2 separate regions of the Homo sapiens genome follow, and region 1 is linked to region 2. The links come from fine-mapping of genetic effects on gene expression. A gene starts in region 2. The other region holds a variant in brackets. All regions are shown on one strand. Distances are between the middles of the regions.

The links. PIP is the estimated chance that this variant, and not a neighbour inherited with it, causes the effect. A credible set is the group of variants that fine-mapping cannot tell apart.
Region 1: its variant is the best candidate, but not a certain one, in a credible set for the expression of ZNF17 in whole blood (INTERVAL, PIP 0.80).

What each region holds. Positions count from the first base shown.
Region 1 is chr19:57,356,473-57,366,794 of GRCh38, forward strand. It overlaps ZNF304 (zinc finger protein 304), which reads left to right. Exons shown (of 3, transcript NM_020657.4): 3 at 1-3,426. The coding sequence ends at 1,377. ZNF547 (zinc finger protein 547) reads left to right here and starts at 7,079. Exons shown (of 4, transcript NM_173631.4): 1 at 7,079-7,231. It overlaps TRAPPC2B (trafficking protein particle complex subunit 2B), which reads left to right and starts at 7,079. Exons shown (of 2, transcript NM_001355204.2): 1 at 7,079-7,231; 2 at 8,343-8,933. The coding sequence starts at 8,362. The coding sequence ends at 8,784. RefSeq lists enhancers at 6,632-6,711, 6,752-7,131. The variant T/C (reference allele first, on the strand shown) is at 4,490.
Region 2 is chr19:57,406,491-57,416,812 of GRCh38, forward strand. ZNF17 (zinc finger protein 17) reads left to right here and starts at 4,671. Exons shown (of 4, transcript NM_001330617.2): 1 at 4,671-4,916; 2 at 7,106-7,146. The coding sequence starts at 7,126. RefSeq lists enhancers at 1-184, 4,675-4,784, 4,865-4,924 and a silencer at 5,168-5,370.

The DNA of each region.
Region 1 (10,322 bases), 50 kb before region 2:
GAGTCTTTCCCACACAGCTCCAGTCTCAGGCAACACCAAGGAGACTATGATGGACAGATGCTTTTCAGTTGCGGTGATGAAGGGAAAGCCTTCCTGGACACCTTTACTCTTCTTGACAGCCAGATGACTCATGCTGAGGTGAGACCCTTCAGATGCCTACCATGTGGAAATGTGTTCAAGGAGAAATCAGCTCTTATTAATCACAGAAAAATCCACAGTGGAGAAATATCTCATGTGTGTAAGGAGTGTGGAAAAGCCTTCATTCACTTGCACCACCTAAAAATGCACCAGAAATTTCACACTGGAAAAAGACACTATACATGCAGTGAATGTGGGAAGGCCTTCAGCCGCAAGGACACACTTGTTCAGCATCAGAGAGTTCACACTGGAGAAAGATCTTATGACTGCAGTGAATGTGGAAAAGCCTACAGCAGAAGCTCCCACCTTGTTCAGCACCAGAGAATTCACACAGGAGAAAGGCCTTATAAGTGCAACAAATGTGGGAAAGCCTTTAGCCGTAAAGACACACTTGTTCAGCACCAGAGATTTCATACTGGAGAAAGGCCTTATGAGTGCAGTGAATGTGGAAAATTCTTTAGCCAAAGCTCCCACCTTATTGAGCACTGGAGAATTCATACCGGGGCAAGGCCCTATGAATGCATAGAATGTGGAAAATTCTTTAGCCATAACTCTAGCCTCATTAAACATCGGAGAGTCCACACAGGAGCAAGATCCTACGTGTGCAGCAAATGTGGGAAGGCCTTTGGCTGCAAAGACACACTTGTTCAGCACCAGATAATTCACACTGGAGCAAGGCCTTATGAGTGCAGTGAATGTGGGAAGGCCTTCAGCCGTAAAGACACACTTGTGCAACACCAAAAAATCCACACTGGAGAAAGGCCTTATGAGTGTGGTGAATGTGGTAAATTCTTCAGCCATAGCTCCAACCTTATTGTACACCAGAGAATTCACACTGGAGCAAAGCCTTATGAGTGCAATGAATGTGGGAAATGCTTTAGCCACAACTCCAGCCTCATTTTGCACCAGAGAGTTCACACAGGAGCAAGGCCTTATGTGTGCAGTGAATGTGGGAAGGCTTACATTAGTAGCTCCCACCTTGTTCAACACAAGAAAGTTCACACTGGAGCAAGACCTTATGAGTGCAGTGAATGTGGGAAATTCTTTAGCCGCAACTCTGGCCTCATTCTGCACCAGAGGGTTCACACTGGAGAAAAGCCTTACGTATGCAGCGAATGTGGGAAAGCCTATAGCAGAAGCTCCCATCTTGTTCGTCACCAGAAAGCTCACACTGGAGAAAGAGCTCACGAGTGCAACAGTTTTGGTGGCCCTTTAGCTGCATCTCTTAAACTTGTTTAACACCAGAAAATTCACACAAGAGAAAGGCCTTATGAATGCAGAAAATATGTCATCTTGTTCATCCTCATAGGACTCACACCAGAGCAATGCTCTGTGAGTACCCTTTGTGAGGGAACCATCAGCTAGCAGATGAGCACCGTATATTCATTCCACCCTGGGGAGATTCCTGATAAGCACCACATATGTGGGAGGCTTTCATGAGGTGTGTTGCACTTTGTAACTGTCTAGAGCTCTTGATGGAATTATATCACTGCCAGTGCCTGTGGCGGAAGCCATCTTATTGCTACCAGCTGTGTGTGTCAATCACTCCATTTTGCTCAGGGAAGGCAGACTTCTGTGCTTTCTTTCCTGTTCCCTACAGGTAATCATGAATATTTTCAAGGACTTCCCCCCCCCCCCACTTCACCCCCTACCATTGAGGGTCCTCATCTTTTCCCTCATGATTAGGTTCTGAGCAAACATGATCTAGCTCTCACCAAAAGGACCTGAGCTAGGGTCTGCTGGGATTTCCTGACACGATTTTCCATCTTCATGGACAATGTTAACTGTAAACGTGATAGCTGTGACTTACTTGTCTTACTGCCAAATCGCCCAAATTTGGAACTGCTTGTCCCATGCTGCTCTGATTTATACAGTGATAAGGGCCTATTGTGGCAGTCTTTACTCTTGGGGATTTTGTTACTGTGTAGAGTGGATTGAGAAAAGAATTGGGTTCTGTCATGAAGGGAGTAGCACCTTTTGTGGGCACCACCTTTATGTGCCTCAGAGGGGACCAAAGGATGGCAGAAAACTGTTCTCAGTCTAGTTTGACCTAATTTACACTATTGCCCTAGGCTTGCTAGGAAAGACTGAAAAAATTTTTGTGCCTAACTTTGTGGCCTGGCTGCCAGGATTTCCTGTGAGCCCAGTGAGGAGGGCATAGTTGGTGCGAAAATCTCCTGTGCTTGTGGAAGCAACATAAGTTGGGTCCCTTAACTGTCACGTACTCCCCAGCACTGTTGAGGGATTGCTGTCTTCTGTACCTGTACAGGATCAAGTCCCTGATATCCAGAACCCCATAGGCAAGTAACATTGACTGTAAGACCTCTGTAGGGCAATGTGAAAATCATGATTGCTACAGAAGCACTGAGATAATGGAGTGGGGATGACTGTGGCAAACAAAAGGAGATTCGAACATTCTAGAGGGGCATCCACAAGTCTCGGTGCAGTTATGATGGTGTGGGATGGGAGTGCATAGAAATTCTCAGGACCTTCAGACATCTGTATCTCCTGTGGCCAAGGCCACTGTCAGAGGAAATAATCTAAATGTTTGTGGATTCCTGTGTCTCCCTGGGCAGTTGACCTGCACAGACAGGAACCTCAGCAGTGACAGAAGAGAGATCCAGGGATGGGTCTTCTCTGACCCAGCCAGCATTCCGAGTGACTGAGGTGGATGTGGACATCATTGCTTACCAATTTTTACCAACATTGAGGCAGGGCTCACTCTCCTAAATTGTAGGGAGAGGAATATGGTAAAGCCAAAATAGTTGACAGATCTAACTTTCCTAGTGGAACAGTATATATAGATTTTAATGAGGAACATTTATTTAATAGCTTTATGGAGGTATGATTAACATGCAATAAACTGCAAATATGTAAAGTGTAAAATGTGCTGTTTCAGCATGTGTGTACACCTATGAAACCACCACAGTCAAGATATCCAACACAACAAAAGATTGTCCCTTTATAATCCTCAATTTTTCCTTATCTTGTTTTCCACAATTCACAAGCAACAGCAAGCATTTTCTATAATTTTATAAATGAAACCATATGGTGTGTACTTTTTAGGGGGTGGGGCTCTGGCTTTTTCAGTAAACATAACTATTTTAAGGTTAATCCATTATCTTGTTGCATGAATCAATTGTTTGCTCATTTGTATTGCTGCGTAGTATTTCAGTATTTCATTGTATACCACAATTTTTCTTCTTTGTCAACTTAATTGTTATGGATGTTTGGGTAACTTTCAGTTTTTGGCTATTACAAATAAACCTCTGAAGATTTGTGTGCAAATTATGGCTGAATGATATTCCATTCTATAAATACACCTCAGTTTCTTTATCCATTTACTTATTGAAGGACGGTTGCTTTCAAGTTTTGGCAGTTATGAATAAACCTACTACATATTTGTATAGTTTTTCTGTGGAGATGTTTTCAACTCATTTGGATATGTGCCAAGGAGTGCAATTTTCTCTGTCATATAGCATGTTTAGTCTTGTAAGAAACTGCCAAGCTGTCTTCCAAAGCGGCTGCACCATTTATTTTATTTATATATATTTTTTGAGACAGAGTCTCCACTCTGTCACCCAGGCTGGAGTGCAGTGGTATGATCTTGGTTCACTGCAACCTCCACCTATTTTAGTAGACATGGGTTTTTACCATGTTGGCCAGGCTGGTCTCAAACTCCTGACCTCAAGTGATCACCCTCCTCGGCCTCCCAAAGTGCTGGGATAACGGGGGTGAGCCACTGCAACGGGCTGTGGCTGTACCATTTTTGCATCCAACTAACAATGATTGAACATTCCTCTTGCATCTCATCCTAATCAGCATTTGGCATTTTCAGTATTTTGGATTTTAAAATGCCATTCAAATAGGTGTGTAGTGGTATGCCATTGTTGCTTTTATTTGCAATTCCCTAATAACACACAATAAGTATCTTTTTTAAAGGCAGGGTTGTTTTGTTTTGTTTTGAAATGGAGTCTTGCTCTGTTGCCCAGGCTGGAGTACAGTGGCATGATTTCGGCTCACTGCAACCTCCACCTCCCGGGTTCAAGCGATTCTCCCACCTTAGCCTTCCAAGCAGCTGGGACTACAGGCACCCGCCACCATGCCCAGCTAATTTTTGTATTTTTAGCAGAAATGGGGTTTCGCCATGTTGGCCAGGCTGGTCTCGAACTCCTGACCTCAGGTGATCTGTCTGCCTCGGCCTCCCAAGGTGCTGGGATTACAGGTGTGAGTCACTGCGCCCAGCCTGGCTGGGGTTTTTTTATGTGAGTTTCACACACCTCTGAGTAAGTGGCTTGCAGACAGAGAAGTTAACAACTTTGGCTGTTAGCTTGAACCTGTGATTTATGAA[T/C]ACCAAAAAGACAAATACAGAATCTAAGGAAACACATAACAGTCCTGTATACACACAGCAGCTGGCAGCCCTATTCCCGGTGTGTCCCATATACCTACCATTGACCTGAAACCCAGTTTGTACGTGCTCATTGAACATTTTGTAGAGCAGTAAATACACATCATCACACAGATTGCCTACTCATTTTTATTTTTATTTTTCGAGACGGAGTCTTGCACTGTCACCCAGGCTGGAGTGCAGTGGCGCGATCTCTGCTCACTGCAACTTCCACCTCCTGGGTTCAAGCGATTCTCCTGCCTCAGCCTCCCAAGTAGCTTGGATTACAGGCACCCGCCACCATGCCCAGATAATTTTTGTATTTTTAGTAGAGACAGGGTTTCACTATGTTGGCCAGGCTGGTCTTGAGCTCCTGACCTCGTGATCCGCCCACCTCGGCCTCCCAAATTGCTGGGATTGCAGGCGTGAGCCACCGCACCCGGCCTTCATTTTTATTTTTTGACAAGTGTTTCCATTTGTTATCTCTATCCCTCCAAACAGTTAATAAGCGATGTTTTCAAGTATGAAATAAGAAATACATATAGGAGACAGAAGCATAATGTGTCCAGGTTCCAGCACAGCCAGTCTCAACTTCATTCTTTGACTTCTCAGACTCTTGCTCAAACTCTACTGTAACCTTGCTTTTTCCCCCCTTCACATGTCACAGAGAGATTTCTGTAGGACTATTTCTGCCACTAGTTTTGAAATAACATAATCACTGTTAGTCCAAACTGCACCATCCTGTAAGCCCCCTGCCATCTCACAGACCTTGGTCAGAGTGAAGCATTCCACGGAGTGAGGGCCTTGAGAAACATCCTGCCCAACTGCCTGACTTTCTTATCACATCGTTCTGGGAAAAGATCCAAGGAAGGTCACTATCACATCCTGCCGGATAAAAGGCCAAACTGCCTCAGGAACATCTTACGCACATCCTTTGGCCGGGTGCTGTGGCTCACGCCTGTAATCCCAGCAATTTGGGAGGCCGAGGCGGGCGGATCACCTGAGGTCAGGAATTCCAGACTGGCCTGACCAACATGGTGAAACCCTGTCCCTACTAAAAATACAAAAAAATTAGCCGGGCGTGGTGGCACGCGCCTGTAAAGCCAACTACTCGGGAGGCGGAGTTCAAGAATCGCTTGAACTCCGGGAGGCGGAGGTTGCAGTGGGCCGAGATCACGCCATTGCACTCAAGGCTGGGCGACAAGAGCGAGACTCCTCCAAAAACAAAAAAAAACCCACCATCCTCCTGGGCAGCAAGTCATACCCTCCCGCCGCGCCCCCTGCCCCCCACCCCTGACCCCTCTCATCCAGGCCTATAATTGCCCCAGCCTGTAAGCAGTGAGGGGTTCTGGCACTAAGCTAGTTCTCCCCATCACAGGTCTCGTGCTGGACATAAAACCTGCATTGCTGTAGAGCTGCCAACTCTGCCTTTCTTTAACCCTCGCCTTCCCTTCAAAACCTAACAGTTATTATTAATAGATTTCTGTAATTTTCATTTCACAAGTATTTTCACAGATAATTTCAACTCCCTGTAAAATGATAACTCACTTCTCAGGAAGGAGATAAGATCATGAAAGTTCACAGTTTTTATTGGGGATAATACGTTCCCTGTGTACATATACTCCAACTATGGAATGGCACAAAATGTCCTGTCAGGAAATGGCATGTATCAGTCACTCTCATTTTCAGACAGGATTGAGACTTTTAAAATAAATGTAAAATATTTCAGACATGAAGTAATAAGTATTATTAGAATAAAAGCATTGCACTCTTGGTAGGAACACAATCACTGACTCTACAGACAGTAATGATGTTTTCTTCTGGATCCAGAGGCACAGCGTCACCCTTTCAATCTACGTCGGTATCTCCTGTCTTCTTTTGTGCAAATTCCCAGCCATGTAGTCTTTCTTTGTTCTCTTGGACCAACCATATTGAAGCTTAATAAATAGAAGTCAAAGTTTAACTGTATGTGTATTTGAAAAGCAACATATGGCTGAGAGGCATGAGTAGAGACAGAGTGCCTTTGTGGTATAGTGTGTCCCTTTGGCGGTGTAGCCGTTGAGAACTTGCTGTGCTTCACAATCCGATATCATAGGTCCCTCACATTTCTGTGAGTATCCTAGACCTTACTTCAAGAAAATCTGGTTATGTCGCCTTTAAGAGCAACCCAAGCCCCGTCCTGTCCGTGGAGTCCGGCACTCTGTTTACCAGCTCCCCTGACGGTGCCACTGAGCCTCTATCCGCCATATAAGGACTGACCAACGCTCTAAGGCAAGTCCAGAAGCGGTGTCGAAACTTCATAACCCAGAAGACACTGCGGTTCTCGGCAGCGCGACTGACCCAATGAATGTGCAGGAAGGAACCTTTGCGTGCGTGCGTGCGTGCGTGCGTCCGTCCTCGTGCTCGCGCATCGTAGGAGGGCGGGACTTCCGGCGTCCTCTTGCCGTGGTTGATTTGATTTTCTCTGGTGTTTTCACTAGTTCCGGCCTTTGGCGCTCTATGACGTCACCGAAGTGACGGAGCGGAAAAGCGCGAGAAGCGGCTTGGTTCCTTGTACGCAGAGGCGGTAGTGACACAGGCACAACTGACAGTGGCAGAAGCTCAGCTGACAAGGACTGGGGACGGCGGTGTCCTTGTCTTGCCTTTGTCGCCCCCGCCCCTCTCTTCCCTGGCTGGACTTGCGGAGTCCCCGCCGAAGAACCCGAGGTGGGTGCCCCGTCCCAGGCCCCCCCCCACCTCCGCCCGACCCCTCCTTCCAGTGCTGAAGCCCATAGAAGGGGCCCTGCAGGTCAGGCCCCTTGTCTCGAAGAGAGGGGCGTTCCTGTGTGGGGTCCCCGTATCAGCTGGTTTGATGCAGCCTCAGAGCTCCCTTCGGGGATCTCAGGTTCAGAGCATGGAGGTGCTGCCAAGTGGGCCGCGTCGGGGAGCCCGGAGTGTGGGTTGTTTCTGCGGGAAAGAGAGGGTTTTGTGAATTTTCTCTTGGAATGGCAGCCTGAGCAGCCGGTATAACCATGGAAGGTTGTCAAGGGAAGACCAGTGGGAGGGGCAGGTCCAGAGTTAGAACGAGCAGGATGGGGAATTGACACAGAGAGACCCAGAAGAGGCCACTGCAGTGGATCCCAGAGGCTGCACCAGAGCCGTGGTATAAGAGGGACAATGTGATGGGATTCTGGATAGACCTGGAAGATAGAGCCAACAGGTTTTCCTGCCGTATCAGATATGTCTGTGAGCAAAAATAGGGAGTGAAGGGTCATTTTTTTTTTTTTGCCCGAACATCTGAAAGAATGAAGTTGGGGAAGTCAGCAGCATGAGAAGTAGGTTTCATGGAGAAGATCATGGGTTGGAGTTTGGCCAGTGTGATTCTCAGGCGTCTCAAGTTGAAAATGTCACATGGGTAGGGGGACAGAAAGGTGTGGAGTCTACAGAGGAGAACTGGTGTAGATTCTTCAAAAGAATAGAGGGTGGCCGGGCGTGGTGGCTCACGCCGGTAATCCCAGCACTTTGGGAGGCCAAGGCGAGCGGATCACAAGGTCAGGCGTTCAAGACCAGCCTGACCAACATGGTGAAACCCCGTCTTTAGTAAAAATACAAAAATTAGCCGGGGGTGGTGACGCGCGCCTGTAATCCCAGCTATTCGGGAGGCTGAGGCAGGAGAATTGCCTGAACCCAGGAGGTGGAGATTGCAGTGAGCCAAGATCGCGCCATTGCACTCCAGCCTGGGCGACAGAGCGAGATTCCGTGTCAAAAAAAGGTGCGGAGCGCGGGTCTCTTCCGCGGAAACTGACATTGCGTTTCCGTTGTCGGCCTCCCGCTGCAGGAGCCATATATTGAAGACCATGTCTGGAAGCTTCTACTTTGTAATTGTTGGTCACCATGATAATCCAGTTTTTGAAATGGAGTTTTTGCCAGCTGGGAAGGCAGAATCCAAAGACGACCATCGTCATCTGAACCAGTTCATAGCTCATGCTGCTCTCGACCTCGTAGATGAGAACATGTGGCTGTCGAACAACATGTACTTGAAAACTGTGGACAAGTTCAACGAGTGGTTTGTGTCAGCATTTGTCACCGCGGGGCATATGAGGTTTATTATGCTTCATGACATAAGACAAGAAGATGGAATAAAGAACTTCTTTACTGATGTTTATGATTTATATATAAAATTTTCAATGAATCCATTTTATGAACCCAATTCTCCTATTCGATCAAGTGCATTTGACAGAAAAGTTCAGTTTCTTGGGAAGAAACACCTTTTAAGCTGAATGGAGAAAATTCCAAAATAAATTATATCACCACAATGGTGTATACTCAGGAATGTGTACATTGTAAATTACTTGATTAAATAGCCTGGAAATCTTTTGTGTATTCTCAGCTTATCTAAACTTAATGAAATTTCTTTTATATTTAAAAATAGTACATTCTGTCTCATGTCACATATCAGTAGATCAATTAGTATTTCCTTGTGAACAATGTTATTTATAAAGAACTCATTATCAATAATAATTAATTTCTTTCTTTTTTTTTTTTTTTTGAGACGGAGTTTTGCTCTTGTTGCCCAGGCTGGAGTGCAGTGGCACAGTCTCGTCTCACTGCACCCTCCGCCTCCCAGGTTCAAGCAATTCTGCCTCAGCCTCCCGAGTAGCTGGGATTACAGGCTCCCACCACCATGCCTGCCTAATTTTTTTTGTATTTTTAGTAGAGACGGAGTTTCGCCATGTTGGTCAGGCTGGTCTTGAACTCCTGACCTCGTGATCTGCCTGCCTCGGCCTCCCAAAGTGCTGGGATTACAGGCATGAGCCACCACTCCCGGCCATGAAATATTTTTACTTAAAAATTGGGAATAAGCTTTCTTTTTCTTTCTTTCTTTCTTTTTTTTTTTTCTTTTGAGATGGAGTCTGGCTCCTGTTGTGCAGGGGCTGGAGTGCAGTGGCACGATCTTGGCTCACTGCAACCTCCACCTCCCGGGTTCAAGCAATTCTCCTTCTTCAGCCTCCCAAGTAGCTAGGATTACAGGCATGCACCACCACGCCTGGCTAATTTTTGTATTTTTAGTAAAGACGGGATTTCACCATATTGGTCAGGCTGGTCTTGAACTCCTGACCTCGTGATCCGCTCGCCTCGGCCTCCCAAAGTGCTGGGATTACAGGTGTGAGCCACTGCGCCTGGCCATGAAATATTTTTTACTTAAAAATTGGGAATAAGCTTTTTTGTGTGTGTGTGTATGTTTTTGTTTTTTTGTTTTTGAGATGGAGTCTTGCTCCTGTCATGCAGGCTGGAGTGCAGTGGCACGATCTTGGCTCACTGCAGCCTCTGCCTCCCGGGTTCAAGCAGTTCTCCTTCCGCCTCCAGAGTAGCTGGGATTACAGGCATACGCCTGGCTAATTTTTGTATTTTTAGTAGAGACAGGGTTTCGCCATTTTGGCCAGGCTGGTCTTGAACTCCTGACCTCAGGTTATCTGCCTGCCTCGGCCTCCCGGAGTGCTGGGATTACAGGTGTGAGCCACTGCGCCTGGCTGGGAATAAGCTTTCGACTTGCCCAATTCAGATAAATTGTTTTTTTTTTTTTTTTTTTTGACGTGGAGTTTTGCTCTGTCGTCCAGGCTGGAGTGCAGTGGCGCTTGGCTCACTGCAACCTCTGCCTCCTGACTTCAAGCGATTCTCCTGCCTCAGCCTCCCAAAGTGCTGGGATTACAGGTGTGAGCCACCATACCCGGCCCAGATAGGTTGATCTTATAACAATCCAGAAACAAATGTCATAGTCAAGATTTGGTAGATAGATTTAAAACTAAAATATTCTGCC
Region 2 (10,322 bases):
ATGTTGGTACCTGTGTTGGCAGTTCTAGGCAGGCCGATTCTTGGGCCTCTGGTTGGCTTTCTTAGATGCTGGTTGTGATAGCAGTGTACCAAGCATGTGAGTGCACTCTTGAGCCCCTGGGCTGCTGGTGTGGCATCCGTGATGGTGGTGGCAGTGGTGCGAAACTCTTCTGGGTCGCACTTGCTGTGCTCATTAGCAGTGGTTGCAGCGGGCTCTGTGGGCCAGCCACTAGACCAGCAGATGGCGCTTGTAGGCAGGAGATGGCTGAAGTGGGTGCAGTAGGGTATTTAGGCCTAACCTCAGCGCCCTAGGAGTGCTCAGGTGTTTCACTTGGTGGACTAGGTTGTGCAATCTCTGGGGGATTTTAAAAGTTTATTTTGCAATTGAGAATGGGATGTTTAGAATTTTTGTCTCCTACTGATTAAAGGTAGAGTATGGGGAAAAAAACAGGCAAAACTAGGAGTTTAAAGAAAAGGAGAGAGAAGAAAAAGAAATGAAGATACAATAATACAGAAAGAACAGAGGGAAAAACTTTATTTATATTTAATACCTATGATGTGACATGCCCGGAGTTAGGAGCATTCATAAGCACCATCTCATATTATCCTCCAACTAAGCTACTCATGTCAGAAAAAATTAAAATTAACAAAGGTCAACAGGGAGTAAGAAATAGAAAATGGAAAGGAAACAATTTTGGAGTGAGACCTACAAAATGATCTCAGAATTTACCCTCTGATAAGTCTTTCTTTGATCCCAGAGTGCACAAAATGTTACATGAAAAAACAAATTAATATAATTACATCTAAATTTCAAGCTTTCTATTTCATAAAGATTATGAGTCAAAACTGAGTGAGTTCAGGGACTCAGAGAAGACATTTAAAATATCTAAATGTGCCCAGTTTTACGGTTTTAGGCATGCGAGTTTTAGATTTTTTTGCTTTTTTATTGAGACAGGGTCTCTTTCACCTAGGATGGAGTGTAGTGGCGTGATCTTCACTCACAGTAGCCTCCACCTCTCAGGTTCAAGCAATCCTCCCATTCAGCCTCCCCAGTAGCTGGGACTACAAGTGCGCACTACCATGCTTGGCTAATTTTTAACTTTTTTGGTAGAGACGGGGATCTCACTATACTGCCCAGGCTGGTCTCGAACTCCTAGACTCAAATGATCCTTCCACCTCCACCTTTCAAAGTACTGGGATTACAGGCATGAGCCACTGTGCCCAGCCAAAGTTTCAGATTCTTCTTAAAGGAATAAAGTCAGAGATCTTAGAAATGAACTAAAGCACGAGCATACAATAAACAAGAGAGAAAAATCAGATGGTTATCAAGAATATGAATGGATATTCAAACTCGGTGTCAGAGAAATGCAAATTAGATATTATTGCATGTTACTTTAAGTTCTATAAATTACTATACTATGGAAAGAAATATGGGGTGATGTAGCTGCAATCATGTATATTTCATGGAAGAGTCAAAGACTGTAGCAGTTTCATAAAGCAATCTGCACAGGTACTGTAAAAAAAATGATTTTCTAGAATATCATGTGACACAGAAAGCCTGTTTCTGGTATATCTCTCAGTCAAGTCCATAAATTCTTATGTGAGAGAAGTTTTCTCACAATACTGTTCAAGGCAGCAGGGACATGGAGACAATATGTTGTAGCATTAAGTGTAAGAGGAGGACCAAAGACATCTATGAGTGAAGTAGAAGACTGAATGTCCACACTAAAGTACAACAGGGCAGTTACTAGCATTTAAGTAGACTTTGACACAGGAGTATATATACATATTAAACACACATTTTGAGTACCAACAAAGGGAGAAAGAAGTCTATAGTACAGTACAATTAAACTACACAAAAAGTAACAGTGCTCCTCTTTCTAAAACACATGTAAATACAAAAACACACAACAGACCTTTAGAATTGTTGTCTACAAGTGGTGGGGTGATGAAGTGTGAGGAACAGGAATGAGTGGAAACACGTCGGAACATTGAACAAGACGAGGTCCTTGTGGGGACATAAGGAGAGAATGTCCACTCACTGTCCAGAGCCTCCTGGGCCATTGTCACCATACAGCCGCTCATTACATGAAAGTGGAATTTCAAAAGGTAGCGAAACACCTAATAAAATATGTTGAAAGGGCTGGGCATGGTGGCTCATGCCTGTAATCCCAGCACTTTGGGAGGCCAAGCCGGGTGGATCATGAGGTCAGGAGTTCAAGACCAGCCTGGCCAACATGGTGAAACCCTGTCTCTACTAAAAATACAAAAATTAGCCAGGTGTGGTGGTGCACACCTGTAGTCCCAGCTACTCGGGAGCTGAGGCAGGAGAATTGCTTGAACCCAGGAGGCAGAGGTTGCAGTGAGCTGAGATCGTGTGACTGCACTCCAGCCTGGGCAACAGAGCGAGACTCTCTCTCTCTCCCTCTCTCCATATATATATATATATATACATACACATACACAAAGATATGTGGCCTGTCACCAAGTGTTAGATGGATGTTTGGGCCAGGCGAGGTGGCTCATGCCTGTAATCCCAGCACTTTGGGAGGCTGAGGCGGGTGGATCACCTGAGGCCAGGAGTTCAAGACCAGCCTGGCCAACATGGTGAAACCCCGTCTCTACTAAAAGTACAAAAATCAGCCAGGCGTGGTGGCCATGCCTGTAATCCCAGCTACTCAGGAGGCTGAGGCAGGAGAATCGCCTGAACCTGGGAGGCAGAGGTTGCCGTGAGCCGAGATCGTGCCATTGCACTCCAGCCTGGGCGACAGAGAGAGACTCTATCTCAAAAAAAGAAAAAAAAAGTTTGTTTAGTTTCTGTTGGTAAATATCTAGAAATAGAATTGTAGGATGGTAGGGATGTATTGTTGGTAAATGATTAACATGTTTTTAATTTTCAGTTTTTTCAGAGACGGGGATCTCACTATATTGCCCAAACTGGTTTTGAACTTATGAACTCAAGTAATCCTCCCGTCTTAACTTCCATGTAGCTGGCACTACTGAACAGCTTTAACTCTTCCAGACCTTCAGTTGGGTGGTTTTTTCTTTTCCTTTCGTTTCCTTCTTTCTCTCTCCTTCCTTCCTTCTTTTTGTAATTTGATAAACCAAATTTCAAGACTTTGGCCAAAAAACAGTCTTCTCCTTTACTGAATATCTCAGTGCTCCATTTTATTTTTCCCTCACCAATTCTGCAGGAGAGATCACAAGACTATGTCCATATCTTTATTTGTGGGGGTATGATTTTCAGCTAACATAGCTGCTAAGTGATTTAATTTACAATTATAGTGGTAGAAAAATAGCTCTAACTTCTGAGGTTTTGTAATTTATTGTAAAAAGCGGAATACAGGACATTTAAAGTGACCTGACAAGGTCAATACAGGACTGAGGACTAATTCATTAAATACGTCTTACGTGTCTTAGAGGACCACAGACAGCTAGCAACCCTACTCCTAATGTGTCCCATGCACTTAGTATTGTACCTGGCATCGAATGAGTGTTCATCAAATATGTTAGAGTAATAAATACGACAGCACAGTTTCCCTATTCAGCTTTACTTTTCTGGTAACTCTTTTAATATATAGTCTTTACCTCTCCCTTCAAGCTGTTAATGCACAATGTTTTCAAGTTTGAAAAAGAATCAGATTTTGGACACCAAACTTGAGTGTGTCCAAGGTTCCAGGACAACCTTAGCTTTTTTCCTCCTATCACAAATATGTTTCTCTATAACTATTTTTGCCACTTTCTTTGGATATCTACATAATCGTCATTAATAGTTTCAGTAATAGCCATTTCACAAGAGTTATTCAGAGACAATTTCAACTCCCTGTGCAGACACTGTTGATACAATTTCAGGCGAAATGATAAATCACTTTCCACTAATGAGATGAGATCATGCATTCCCAAACCTTTATCTCAGGAGTAAGATGCTTTCTTTGCACAAGGGCTTTGACTGGTGGAAGGCCACACTATTCTGGCAGATAATGGTAGATAAGTCGCTTTTCCTTTTCAGTTAGGTTTCAGTCTCTTAAAATAAGTGGAAAATATCTCAGATATAAAGTAATAAGTATCATGTGAATAAAGTGTTGCTGGGTAGGCTGAAAGACAATAACTGATTATTCAGAAAGGAAAGATATTACTCCTCAAACTCCCCATCATGCCATGTCTGGGTCTTTTCAATGTGCCCAGCAGAGCACATTGAAGATCATAAAACAGTCTCCAGAGCTTCGTTCTGTGTGTATTTGGCAAGCACAAAAGAGCTGACCGCTATGCGTGGAAGACCAGTTCTTTATGGTTGGCCATGTTCCTTCGGATGTTCGTCTTTTGGGAACTTGCTGTGCTTTACAGAATCTGAAAGGACAGGTCTCTGAAACATTTCTCTGACTTGTTCTAGACTGCCTTCCGGGAAAATCTGGATGCTTGCCGTTTAAAAGCCAATGAAGCCCCTCCACGTCCTTGGAGCCCCGCAACTGCATTTCTCAAAGCCTCAGGAGGATCCTCCTGGCTTTCATCCTGAACGCGAGTTAACTTAAGTTCAGAAGCGGGGCAGGCAGTGGCCTGGGAACTACATTACCCAAAAGACACAGCGGCGGACACAAGCAGCGAGTGTAGCCAATGAAGGCCTAGCAGAGCGGCGTCTACGGGGGTTCGCAATGCGTGTGGGCGGGACTTCCTGCAACGCCTCCTGGGGTTGTCAATATGGCTGCGTTGGGATCTGTTCACCTTCAGGCTGAGTCGAGACTGAGGTGAAAAAGCGGAAAAACGCGAGAAAAGGTTTCCCCGTTGTACAGAGGCTAGAGTGAGGCTCGGTTGAATCGGTTGCAGGCGTTGGTGCCTCTGTCAGCGTCCAGGTCACTGCCGCTCCCGCCCCGCTCTTCCCTGGCTGTGCTGGCGGAGGCTGCGCCGATGAACCTGACTGAGGTGGGTGCCGCGTCCCAGGGCGCCCCGCCCGATCCCTCCTCCGAGTGCCGAAGCCCCGAGGAGGGGCCCTGCAGGTCAGGCCCCTGTGTCCCAAAGAGAGGAGCGTTCTTGTGTGGGGTACCGGTGTCCGCGGTGCTGTGAGGCGGGGGAGCTCCTGTCAGGGACCTGCACGTGCGAGGCTTAGAGGTGCTGCAGAGCGGGCGGCACTGGGGAGCCCGAGCGTCTTTGTCTCCACGGAGCTGAGGGTGAGGCGGAGTCTCGCCTGGGAGGGCAGCGGAGCTGCTGAAAGCCGTAGAAGGCTGTGCAGGAAGGGTTATGCCCAGAGGTAGACGTTTAAAGTTGGGAAAAACAGGATGTTAAACCAGGACAAGGGGACCGCTGAGGAGACCCCTTGAGTTATGGTAGGGATGGGCCAGAGGGGTTGCAGTAGAGGGGAAGTGTGATGAGATTCTGGATGGATCTCAGAGATAGAGTCGACAGGATTTCCTGCTGCATCAAATGTAGCAGTGAGGGTAGTGAAGGGTCTATTCCATGGATTTTGTTTTGGCCTGAAAATCTGAAAGAATGGAGTTGGAGAAGTCAGCTTAGGGAGCAGGTTTCAGAGAGGATTATGAGTTGCATTTTGGAGGGCTGAGTTTTGGAGGGCAGATCATGGGTGGGTCCATAAGCCTGACGCTACCTTTAGAAAGGCGCAGACCTGTCATAGGAGGGATTCTGGCTCATATCTGCAAAAACGGAGTTCTGAATGGGTTAAGGAACTGGCCTAGGCTGGAGACTGAGGTGTGAGGTGGTTTAGATTTCTGCACCTGCAGACCCAGCAGCCCCCCAGGCCCACTCTGTGGAACAATAGGAAGGTCATCCAGACTAGTGGGGACATTGGGTCCAGACGGGGGTAGGGCTTTCTCACATCTAGTCAAGGGCCTCCAGCAAGCTTCCAGCAACTGAATTTGTAGCAGGCAGGCCTGGTTGCTGATGGGACCAGTAACTGACCTGCTTGCTTATCCCCTCCCTGCAACTTATTTATTTATGAATGTGTAAAACATTTTTTTTTTTTTTGAGACAGAGTCTCGCTCCATCGCCCAGGTTGGAGTGCAGTGGCGCGATCTCGGCTCACTGCAAGCTCCGCCTCCCGAGTTCAAGCAATTCTCCTGCCTCAGCCTCCCGAGTAGCTGGGACTACAAGTGCCCGCCACCACGCCAGGCTAATTTTTTGCATTTTTAGTAGAGACGGGGTTTCACCGTGTTAGCTAGTATGGTCTCTATCTCCTGACCTCATGATCTGCACGCCTCAGCCTCCCAAAGTGCTGGGATTACAGGCATGAGCCACCGCGCCCGGCCGAATGTATAAAACATTTATTTAACCACTAATGAACCAGTATCCTTCTAAATATGTACACATAGGTCGGCAGTTAGAAATGAATGTAACCAATAGTTAAATTTATTCACTTAATAATTGTTGAATGTTGATTTTTCTTTTTTCTTTTTTTTTTTGAGACGGAGTCTCGCTCTGTCGCCAGGCTGGAGTGCAGTGGCGTGGTCTCGGCTCACTGCAACCTCTGCCTCCCGGGTTCAAGCGATTCTCCTACCTCAGCCTCCCGAGTAGCTGGGATTACAGACATGCGCCACCATGCCCATCTAATTTTTGTATTTTTGATAGAGACAGGGTTTCACCATGGTTGGCCAGGATGGTCTTGATCTCTGCACCTCGTGATCCGCCCACCTCGGCCTCCCAAAGTGCTGGGATTAGAGGCTTGAGCCACCATGCCCGGCTGAATGTTAATTTTTCTATTTGCTTGCAATGGAAAGTTTTATGTATCACATTTCCTTAACACCGTAAGAAGTGGGAAAAATACACACCCAAAATTTCAAAACCCTTCCATGTCATTTGTACCGAAAACATGTAAAAAATATTTAATCCAGTAGAAAGAAATTGCTGATACATAGTGTGTACTACTTATATTTGATGCCCATATAAGCCCTATTAGTTGGCAATCCTTTTAATCTCTATTTTACACATAAGGGCACCGAGACTTAAGGAAGTTCAGTCCTCATCAAGACACTGAACCCTGAGGACTTACTGTGTACCCTCAGATAACTTTGCTCTAGTTGCAGGGCCAGAGGTGGTTGTACAGTCAGCCTGTAGGATGCTGCAATGCTGTCTTAATCCTCATGGCCTGCCTCTTCCCACAGGGTTCATAGCAGTGGCAGCAATGCTTATGGATGCTGGACAGGTGAGTGGAGAGTGTTTCCAGCTTTCACCCATCCCAGATGGTTTCAGCATGCTGATATAGGGAATGGTGTTATCCTGAGACTGTTCACCTTTTCTTCTCTCTCCCTTGGGTCCAAGGAGAGCCTGTAGTTCCACCAGACCTGGGTTCCAAACTCAGTGCCTGGTTATATAGAGTGGTTCTAGTTCTCACAACTGATGGTTTGAGATTTGGCAAGGCATCTCAAACACAGGATCTAGAATGTTCAAATGCTTGGTGGTGAGACTTAGATGGGATGCTTAGAGAACTGTAGCTTAATGTTCTAGCTGGCAAGGATAAGGAGCACAGCAGCAGGGCAGGAGGTCGGGGCATGCAGGGATCAGGCATGGAATGGCAGCCTGAGGTTGTCTAGGTTTTTGTTTTTGTTTTGTTTTGTTTTTGAGACAGAATCTTGCTCTGTCTCCAGGCTGGAGTGCAGTGGCGCGATCTCAGCTCACTACAACCTCCGCCTTCCTGGTTCAAGCGATTCTCCTGCCCCGGCCTCCCGAGTAGCTGGGATTATAGGCACCCGCCACCATGCCCGGCTAATTTTTGTATTTTTTAGTAGAGATGGGGTTTCACCATGTTGGCCAGGATGTTCTCAATCTCTTGACCTCGTGATCTGCCTGCCTCGGCCCTCCCAAGGTGCTGGGATTACAGGCTTGAGCCACCACACCTGGCCTTGTTTTTTTTTTTTTTTCCAGACAGAGGCTAACTCTGTCGCCCAGGCGGGAGTGCATTGATGTGATCTCGGATCATTGCGACCTCTGTCTCCCAGGTTCAAGCAATTCTCCTGCCTCAGCCTTCCAAGTAGCTGGGATTACAGGCATGAACCAACACACCCAGCTAATTTTTGTATTTTTAGTAGAGACAGGATTTCACCATGTTGGCCAGGCTGGTCTCGAACTCCTGGCCTCAAGTGATCTGCCTGCCTCAGCCTCCCAAAGTGCTGGGATTACAGGTATGAGCCACCGTGCCCAGTGGTTCTAGGTCTTTAATCTGAGGGGGGTAGTAGCTAGGGAAGGTTTGAGAAAGAAAAAAGAGGTGATTTGACCTAGATTCTTTTTTTTTTTTTTTGAGACGGAGTCTCCCTCTGTCGCCCAGGCCAGAGTGCAGTGGCGTGAACTCGGCTCACTGCAAGCTTCGCTTCCTGGGTTCACGCCATTCTCCTGCCTCAGCCTCCCAAGTAGCTGGGATTACAGGCACCTGCCATCATGCCCGGCTAACTTTTTTTTGTATTTTTTAGTAGAGCCAGGGTTTCACCGTGTTAGGATGGTCTCGATCTCCTGACCTCATGATCTGCCCGCCTCAGCCTCCCAAAGTGCTGGAATTACAGGCCTGAGCCACTGCACCCAGCCAGATTTGACCTAGATTCTAAGAGGCTTCCTCTGCCTGCAGAATGGAGGACAGAGTGAGAGTTAGGGAAGAACCAAGGATACCTGGGTGATAATTCCTGCCACAGTCCAGTGGAGGTTGGTGGTGGCTGGACACGAGTGGCGGCTGTGGAGGTGGGAGGGGTGGGTGGCTTCTGTAGGTTTTGATCTAGAGCTGCTCACATTTTTTGATGTACAGAGCGAGGAAGCTCGGGAGGTAGGATGCAAGAGGGAGTCAGGAATGGCCCCATTGTTTTGGCCTTGTTGAGAAGGTTGGATGTTCCAGCAACTAAGATGTGGTAAATTTTGTAGTAGGGGGAGTTTAATAGAGCATATGAAGAACGAGGTTTGGGCTAAGTCAAAAATGTTCCAGAGACTCGAGTAGAGGTGCCAGACTGGCAGTTGAACACACAGGAATGGAGTTCAATGGAGGTGTTCAGGATGGAGACATCTACTATATGATAGCCAGCGTGTACACCATGGTAAATCTGTGGGTCAGATTTAGGAATAGACATCTTTAGATTCTGGAGGCAATGCTGTTAGGGAGAAGGAAGGGGAAGGAAGGGGCTGAGGACTGGATCTTTCTGTTGGGCACCTGGATGGGGTTGCTGGGCATCACAAAGACAGATGAGGGAGTGGATGGACTGAGGATATGTGTGTGTGTATTTGTGTGTTTATGTTGGAGATGGCCTTTGGAAAATAAAGGCTTTTGAGGGGGAGAGTGCACATAAAAGTTGGATGGTGAGGCATCTCCACAAAAGAGGTGAGATGATAGTGAGGTCTGGGAGGGGCTTAGTACCCTATTATGGACTCAACAGGGTTTTGTGGCAAATATTGGTTGTACCTGGGTAGTTTCACGCGAACTCTGAGACTATTTTGGCAGAAGATGGGATCATCTAGAAGCATTGCTAGTCCTGGGGTGGGGATGGTGTTGGGGAGGTCAGTGTATCTGGGCTTTGGATTAGAGTTGGGGGATAGAGAAAGTCGTGACTGCTTATGGGACAACATATACATGTAGAAGGGGGAGACAGCCAAGATCTGGAACTCAAAGGAGGTGTGCAAGAATATGTGGGTTTGGAAAGCTGAGGTCAAAGAAAGAAACAGGATTGGGTTGGGAGACGTTCAAAGCAATGTTTCCTAAACATTGCATTCTGGTCATTCTAGGGGCAAATACGATTCTGGTTGCATTTGTCATGCACTGCAGGATTTCATGTGCAGAGTGGCATGGTAACACGCCATGGAAATACTCCCAGTTGGGCTGTGGTGGTTGTTAGTGTTGCCAAGAGTGGAGGTGTTGGATACATGAGGGAGGTGCCATCCAAAGCCTGAGTGGAGGAGCATGAATAGATGGTTCCACCTCTGGCACTGGGCACTTAAGGGAGGAGGGTGAGTCCAAGTTTGGTTATCTGAGAGGCAAGATCTGGGTGACTCTAGGGAAATTGAGTGACAAAAGAAAGGTAGGCCCCCATGTGCCAGGTGTTTTTTTTGTTTTGTTTTGTTTTTTGAGATGGAGTCTAGCTCTGTTGCCCAGGATGGAGTGCAGTGGCGCGATCTCGGCTCACTGCAACCTCTGCCTCCCAGGTTCAAGCAGTACTCTGCCTCAGCCTCCCGAGTAGCTGGGATTACAGGTGCCTGCCACCATGCCCGGCTAATTTTTGTATTTTTAGTAGAGATGGGGTTTTACTATCTTGGCCAGGCAGGTCTTGAACTCCTAACCTTGTGATCTACCTGCCTCAGCCTCCCAAAGTGCTGGGATTAGAGGCATGAGCCACCATGCCCGGCCATGTG